Linked DNA regions of Homo sapiens. The protein of the gene in region 2 interacts with the protein of the main gene of each other region in a pairwise test. Each region holds a gene or a part of one and is shown on either strand. Other genes may lie near its edges. The genes, in order: MYL6B and SPA17.

Region 1 (4,449 bases), on a different chromosome or scaffold from region 2:
ATCCCCCTCTCCACTCTAAAGGAGTTCTGGTCCCCCTTGCCTGCCTCACCAAGGGTGGTGAGAACATGTCTGAGCTCTGCTCCCATGACTTTGCCGTTCCCCTCCTTGTCAAACACACGAAACCCCTCCAAGTAGTCCTCATATGTGCCTTGGCCTCGGTTCTTGGCCACTGCCTGGAGCATGGGCAGGAAAGTCTCAAAGTCCACACGCCGCGACTTCAGCTCTGGAGGTTGGAGAGAGGTAAAGGAGAGGTCATTGTAGTATTACATAGGACCCAGCTCCCAACCCTACCACAATGCTTTCATCCTATTCAGCATTTAGGATATTTTCCTGCTTCTGTGTTTGACAGTTTTTGAAGTCCTGAGATCCACCTCATTCTTTTTGTTACCAACATCCAACTTTTGAAAACTAAAAACCCAAATTGTTCCCAAGGGTCCCCTCACCATCACTCTTGGGGTTCCCCAGGACCTTGAGCACCTCGGCGTTGGTGGGGTTCTGGCCCAGGGCCCTCATCACGTCCCCACACTGGCTGTACAGGATCTTGCCATCCCCCACTCGGTCAAACAGCTCGAAGGCCTCCTTGAACTCTAAAGTATAAGGAAGGGTCAGTGTAGACACTGACTAGGGTTCCCATCACCCCCAGACAGAAGGGAATTTCAGAAACTATGTGAACAGAACAAGGGAGGAAAAGAGGACTAGTATGGGAGGTTTCAAGGTCAGGACTGGGGTTAGGGGAATAGAAAGAGAATCTGACCAGGGGATTGGGGATGGGACAGTGGCCTTAGATGAGCTTCTCCTCACCCTCCAGCTGGTCCTTGTTAAACTCGATCTGTGGAAGAAAAAAGCAGGTGGGGAGAGATGAGAGTTTATTCAATCCCTCTCCCGCACTCCTCCCAACCAACTGGCAGCCACTTCTGAGGAGGGGCCCAAAGGGACCAGGCTGGAAGCCCAGCCACCTCAGTCCCATTCCCAGCTCTGGGCCTTGGGAGAATCCCAAGAAGAGGAATTACAGTGGGGAGGGTTTCCTGGGAACAGGGTTAATCCCATGCCACCTGTTTCCCTCCCTCCATTGCCCTGAGCCCTGCATCCCACACATAACTGGGGGCTGAACAAAGGCTAAATTTACCCCTGGCCCCCAGCTGTGATTGTCTAACAAGTCTGTCCTCTTCAGCCTCCCCTCCTGGAGTTCAGAGCTGCAGGCCTTTTGAATTGAACCACCAGCCAGGGGCAGGCAACAGCTCTCTTCCCTTCACCTTGAAACTGTTCTCAGAACCCAGATGTTCCCCATCTAAGAGTCCCTGCCTCCAGCAGGGGGTAAGTGAGTGTGTATGTGCTGTACACACATGATTATAGGTTAGAGGGAGAGAACAGCAAAGACAACAGCAGAGTCATAAGACTGGATGCTTCCAAATGGGGGACTAAGGGAAAGCCCCAATCTCATTCCAGGGCTCACTGATTCCCTACCTTCTAGATACCCCCTAATCCCCTAGGCTGTATCCCACCCTCAAACCACCCCCTCCAATTCTATCTTCACTTTCCAGAGACTCACCACCACTTTGGAGAGATCGACTGGAGGCTCCTGGGTTTTCTGAGGGGCCTGGGGGACAGCTGGCTCAGCTTTGGTCTTGGCTGGAGGAGCCCCTGCTGCTGCTGGCTTAGCAGCAGGTTTGGAGATGGAGGGCCCTGCTGGTTTCTTCACGGGAACATCCTTCTTGGGAGGCATGATGTCCGGTGGCCAAAGGACAGTGTGCGGATGGGGGCACCCATCTCTGTTTAAATAGCCAGGGAGTCTGGGATGTCAAGGGGCGGGGGCAGGGGCAGGGAGCCAGTTGGCTGTGGCAAAGATGAGGTAGAGGAGAGATATAACCGCCTGCCCTCACTCCCCTGGCCTCCTATGGTTCAGGACTCCTGCCCCAAGGTCTTCTTCCCTCTGTCCCCTTATCCCCAAAGGCTGACCAGAAAAGAACAATGTTTCCTTTAGGGGTAGGGGAGGAAGCCAGAGACTGCCCAGAATGAGGTAGTTAACCTCCAGGGTGAGGATAGGATGCTTGCCAGTGGCACTGAGATGGGGGTGGTGAGGCAAAGCAGGTGATCCAGCAGCTTTAGTCTTCTTGAAGGGTGGGGTGAGGGGTAGCAGCCAGGGAGGCTTGTGTGAACTGGAACAAGTTAAAGTGTGGTCTGGGAGCAATGACAAAAACAAGAAGCCCATCTGCCCAGCCCCTCCACTCCCTTCTGACCATGGCTTTGTAAAGAGCAGGGGTAGTTAACCTTAGAGTCTAATGATCCCTAATACTTGTAGTTCCTGAGCCCCCACCCAGCCAAGAACTGGAACTATTCACAGTATAAAGGAAGAATAGTCATAAAAACAGGAGTATGACATCCCTCATTGTCTCCTGTGCCCAGTGTTGTTTTAGGGGCAGGAGTGGGGGCAAAGATCAGGTTTAACATCTGCTACCCATTCTTCCATGGAAGAAACCTTCCACAAGCCCACGGTCATTCAAGACAAACAAAAGGTAGGGTGCTTGCTGAACCTGTGGGGACCCTTTGGTGGCACCTGAGGAGAAGGGCAGGCTCTGGGAGACGGCTTAAATTCCCTAATCCAAGAGGATGTGGGCGCTCCTATGGCTCCATGAGTATTCACCCCACAACCAGGGGTATAATAAAAATCCTGACTCAGGGGCCAGGTCACAAACCTTGCCAGGGGCGCTGGGAGAGAGTCCAAGTTGGGGGGCGTTTGGGAGTGGGGAGGGATTGCAGGCTACTTTTGTTCTGGGGTAAATTAGGAAAGGATTTAGGTAGCATTCTGAGGAAGATAGCAGTGATTCCACTTAGGCCCCGGGGTTGATGCTGGGTCTCCCATTCGCAAAACAGCGTCTGAATCTCATGACTGCAAATTGTCCCATTTTTACAAAATACATCACACACACACGACACACACACACACACACACACTCACGCACCCCCACTAAATCTTAAAGAAAATGGCCCTCCTCAGCCCCCAAAAACTCACCCTGCGGGGTCCGTGTCTGGGGCTGGGGAGGGGGCGGGGCATAGCGCGGCCCCCAGCCCTGAAGGGTTAATTCCGGTGGCCGCGGAGCATGCCGGGAGTCGTAGTTCCCCGCGGGCTCACGGGATGCGCCGCGCTCTAGATTGCAGTTGACGCGAGGGCGGTGGCTTCCGGCCCATGGCGGTGGTTGGTGACTCAGTGTCCTTCCAGCGCGCTTTATGTCCCGGAACTGAAAGGCAATGAACAATTTCCAATCCACCCCAACCCTAAAAACCCTGCGGGGCCCCTAGGGTATCCCTCCTACTTAACCCTGGCGGGCTCCTAGTCTCGGGAGGTGGAGGGGGCGGGGCGGCTGTTTTCCTGGACCTACTGCTGAAAGAACTCAGAACCTGGGGAAAGATTGAGGCTGCAGCAGGCAGCGTGGAGGTCAGATAGCTGGAAGCACTTAACGGCCCCGGGGAGAACCGCTGCACTCTCTTTTGCTTCCTCTCGCGGTTTGGTAGAAAAAAAAGAGGCCTCAGAGTAGTTTGTTTTTAATGAGCTGGTTGCTGAAGTAAATGTTAAAATTTGCAATTAAGCCCAGTCACCTGCCCCAGCCTTCTCTGATCGAGGTTTCCATCCTGCGGCAGCATATGCGCCATCCTCCTCGATCTTCACAGGTCTCTGAGCGGAGGGCTGGGCTTTCCAGCCCTACTTTCTGAAACTCTTATGGTCAGCATTGGAGTTCACTGGTTCCCCTAGGCGTTGATCAGAGGATGGGAACCAGCCCGGCCGGGCCCACCTTCACTCACTGGATCAGTAAATACCCTGGCGGTGCACCTGGTGTTGGAAGCTGGTGCTGCACAGGCGTGTGAGGATTAGATCAGAGCAGAAAACTCGGGCGATGGCAGGGTGGTGAGGCACAGGTGAACTTTATGGGCAGTAAGTGAGGTTCACTGGTTGGGGAAAGTTTATTGGAAAGGTAGAAATGAATTGTACGACAGAAATAACGATAATAGTAAGTTAGCAACCATTTCTGGAGGCCGCCATAGATCTCGTACCGGTGAAGGGGCTAAATTATCTCAGAGGGTGCTCAAGTGGATGGGGTTCAGACAGCCTACTCAGATTTAAATCCTGGTTCTACCAGGTCCTAGTTAGTGACCCTCAGCAGGTTTAGTTATCTCTCCTGGGCCTCAGTTCCTCATCTGTAAAATAATGATAATGGTACCTACCTCATAGGGCTCTTCGGAGGATTCGAAGTGTTATTATTGGTAAAATAGGGCCGGGCTTGGTGGCTCACACCTCCCAGCACTTTGGGAGGCGAGGCAGGTGGGTCACCTGAGGTCAGGAGTTCGAGACCAGCCTGGCCAACATGGTGAAACCCTGTCACTACTAAAAATACAAAAAAAAAAAAAAAAAAAAAAAAAAAAAAAAATAGCTGGGCCTGGTGGCGGGCGCCTGTA
Region 2 (3,818 bases):
ACTTTGTTGATTTTCTGTTTAGATAATTTGTCTAATGCTATGAGTGGGGTGTTGAAGCCCCTCACTATTATTGTATTGCAGTCTACCTCTGTCTTTAGACATAGAAATTTTTTTTAATGAATCTGGTTGCTCCAGTGCTGGGTGTGTATATATTTACAATTGTTATATCCTCTTACTGAATTGATCCCTTTATCATTATAAAATAAACTTGTTTGTTGTTGTTTTCTACTGTTTTTAACTTAAAGTCTGTTTTACCTAATGTAACTATAGCTACTTCTGCTTGCTTTTGGTTTCTGTTGGCATGGAATATCTTTTTCCACTTCTTTACTTTCAGTCTAAATGCTTTTACAGGTAAGGTGAGTTTCCTATTAGCAGCATATAGTTGAATCATGTTTTTTTTTTTTTTTTAAAGAAATCCATTCAGCCAGTCTATAGCTTTTATGTTGAGCATTTAATCCATATATGTTTAAAGTTATTATTGATATGTGGAGTTTTGTTCCTTTTGTCTTATTGTTAATTGCTTTCTGGTTATTTTATACATTGTTTCTTTTTCTCTTACTGTTTGTCATTGTGGACTGGTGGAATTCTGTAGTGGGCCCATTTGATTCATTTCTGTTCCTCCTTTGTGTGGTCGCTTTAACAGTGAGTTTTATACTTTCCTGTGTTTTCATGATGCTAACTTCCATTTTTTTGCTTCCAAGTTTAGGATTTCCTTGAACACTTCTTGTAGGGCCAGCCTAGTACAGACGAATGCCCTTGGCATTTGCTTGTTTGGGAAATACTTTATTTCTCTTTCATTTATGAAGGTTAATTTTGCTGGATATAGAATTCCTGGCTGATAGTTGTTTTCTTCCAGCTCTTTGAATTATCATCCCACTCTCTCCTGGCCTGTCAGGTTTCTGCTGAGAAGTACGGTTATTAGTCTGATCGGGTTTCCCTCACAGTTGATGAGATGTTCTCATCTTGCTGTTTTTAGAATTCACTCTTTGACTTTAGACAGTTTGATTTTAATGTGCTGTGGTGAAAACTTTTTTTTTTTTTTTGCATTGTATTTGGGGAATCACTGCACCGCCTATATCTGGATGTTTAAATCTCTTGCTAGACTTGTGATGTCTTCATCTATTATTGCATTAAATAGGTTTTCTAAGCCTTCTGATCTTTTTGTCCTTGCGGATACCAATAATTCAAATATTCAGCTGCTTTATGTTGTCCCAAATGTCTTAAAGGCTTTGTTTATTCTTTTTTATTTTTGTCTTACTGGATTGTTTCAGACCTGTATTCAAGTTCTAAAATTTTTTTGTTCCACTTAGTCTAGTCTATTGTTAAATCTTTTGAATGTATTTTATATTTCCTTCAATAAATTCTTCAATTCCAGAATTTATGTTAGGGTTTTTTTAAAAATAAAAATCTATCACCTTGTAAAATTTTTCATTTATATCCTGAATTGTTTCACTGAGTTCTTTGTATTGGTTTTCAGATTTCTCTTGCACCTCACTGACCATATTTAAAAATCAGTATTTTGAGTTCCTTATCTGAGACTTTAAGAATTTCATTCTGGTTATGATCTATTAGTGGAGAACTGTTGTGTTCATTCTGGGGTGTCATACTTCCTTGTTTTTCATGTTTCCTGTGAGACTCTGAATTTCTATCAAGTTTCCAGTTGATGCCAATAATGCTGATTCCACACAGCCTTTCTCAACCAGCATTCATTATCTGAACCATGGAACACAGAGAATGTTTTGAGAAGCTCTTTTCTCAATTCTCCCAAGGATGGTACCTAACCAGAACCATTCTAGATACAAATCAGGACACTGATTCCTTACATGCAATTAGTGCCTTTGGTTTAGGGCTTAATTTTTTTGAGGAAACTTGGTTGAGAAAGCTGTCTTTGTAAAGCTGCTAAAGAGAAAGGCTCAGACTCTGAAAAAGCTAGCTTTATAGAGAAAACTACACCATTACCACCTTTAATTCTAACCGGTCTTTTGTATCAATAATATCATATCGATGATAATGAAATAATTGGACTAATAGTGTTTTGGTCTACGAAATATCATCTATTAATTCAGTAATTATTTGTGGAGTACCTGCTATTGCTTAGCACTGTGATGCTGAAAACATTTGAAGAATAAATGATGAAATAATTATTCATAACTTTTAAGCACCTTCTTCCTGTTGTTCATCATTAAACTTAAGTGAAATATCTGTACATGACTCAGATACTTTAGAAAAATATTCTCAGCAAAAAATCCCAGCACAATTTTAATTTAATAAGTTTTAATAAGATTTAATAAGTTTTTATTAAATCTTTTTAATAAATAATCTTTTTAATAAAATAAGATTTATTAAATTTTAATTTAATAAGATTTAATAAGTTATTTGTGATGCCTCCTCACATAATTCTCACAATTCTGGGGATAGCCTAATAATTGCTAGCTGTAGACAGAGAGAAGAAATAGCCAAATCCAACAGCTTCAAAGGACCATACCTCGAATGCATGATTGTTATAGAAGCGGTCTTCTACCTTACTCCCCCATTCTGCTGGATCAAAGTTGGTTTCTAAATAATAAAAATATAAGAACTTCAGATTTATTTGAATTCATTAAGGTAAATGTAGAATAGTGACACAAATGTAAGTTTCTTGTTTCAAATTACAGGTTCTTTACTGGCAGTCCAAAATCTTATTGACATTGTGCATAGCGTAGCACTGCAGACATTACCAGTGATTATTAAACATATGATAACCAACTGAACATTGGATGAGCCTTTGGGGATATTTAGAAAAGCACTAAAAACGTAATTTCTGCCTTCATAAAATTTATAATAAAATGGGAAAAAGAACAAATGCCAGTACTTAAATATAAATGTAGACACTTAGAACATGTATTAGTAAACACAGAAAAATGTATAAACCTAAATGCTAAGTTGTCAGAAAGTCTGGAAAAGTGAAAGATGGGAGAAATTTTTTTTAATGAAGTATATTATGTAGACAGTTGACACAGACAAGCAGAGGTATTTATTTTTAAACAATTTTTTTCTTTAACTTTATATTATAAAAATTTCAATACTTAAAAAGTAGATATGATAACAAACTCCCATGAGCATACTGTCTAGATTCAATGATCAACCCATGATTTATTTTATTTATAACCTTTTCTTCTGATTATTTTTCTGCACTTTTTTCTGATTATTTTTAACCCAACCCCTTGCATCCTGTTATTTTATCTACAATTATTTATTTCAGAATGTATCTCAATATATACTCTTTTAAAATATAACCACACCACCATTATCATACTTCAAAATACTAAAAATATTAATAATTCCTCAATATCCTCAACTATTCAGTCAACTATCCAAATTTCTTCCATTGTCTATTTATTTGTTGGTTCAAATCAGGACCCCGAAAACGGGCACACACAGCTCTTTGTATGTCTTTTAAATTTCTTTTAAAGGAAGAGCCCCCAGCCCCTATTCTTTCCTTGCAATTTATCTGTTGATGAAATTACGTCATTTTCCCTTTGGAGTTTTTCACAGTTCAGATGTTTCTGACTATCCCCATGGTGGCTTTTAACAAGTTCTTCAGCCTTTGAATTTCCTGTAAACTGGTAGCTAGCTGTATAGGTTTGATCTAATTCGGGTTTGACGGTTTGATTTTTTTTCTGCAAGTATACTTGATTGGTAGTGCTGTGTAATTCTGTCATAAAATTTATAATATCTGGTTACTCTTTTTATAATTTTTATCGGCCCCCTGATGATCCTTGCTTAGATCATTTCCTTAGGGGTTGTGAAATGGTAATGCTCTAATTTGATCAATACTT

The links.
Region 1: the proteins of SPA17 (region 2) and MYL6B interact in binary tests that used the Homo sapiens proteins (3 or more experiments, as listed by UniProt).

What each region holds. Positions count from the first base shown.
Region 1 is NC_000012.12:56,151,193-56,155,641, reverse strand, and holds the start of MYL6B (myosin light chain 6B), read right to left. Parts: upstream 3,011-4,449; intron 2,514-3,010; exon of another isoform or gene 1,834-2,513; coding exon of another isoform or gene 1,799-1,833; exon of another isoform or gene 1,770-1,798; 5' UTR 1,724-1,769; coding exon 1,550-1,723; intron 830-1,549; coding exon 802-829; intron 588-801; coding exon 444-587; intron 224-443; coding exon 50-223; intron 1-49. Other genes in the region: uncharacterized protein LOC124902942, read right to left, coding at 1,799-1,833, 3,011-3,236, 3,595-3,648. UniProt on the Homo sapiens protein: Regulatory light chain of myosin. Does not bind calcium.
Region 2 is NC_000011.10:124,680,127-124,683,944, reverse strand, and holds part of SPA17 (sperm surface protein Sp17), read right to left. Parts: intron 2,557-3,818; coding exon 2,486-2,556; intron 1-2,485. UniProt on the Homo sapiens protein: Sperm surface zona pellucida binding protein. Helps to bind spermatozoa to the zona pellucida with high affinity. Might function in binding zona pellucida and carbohydrates.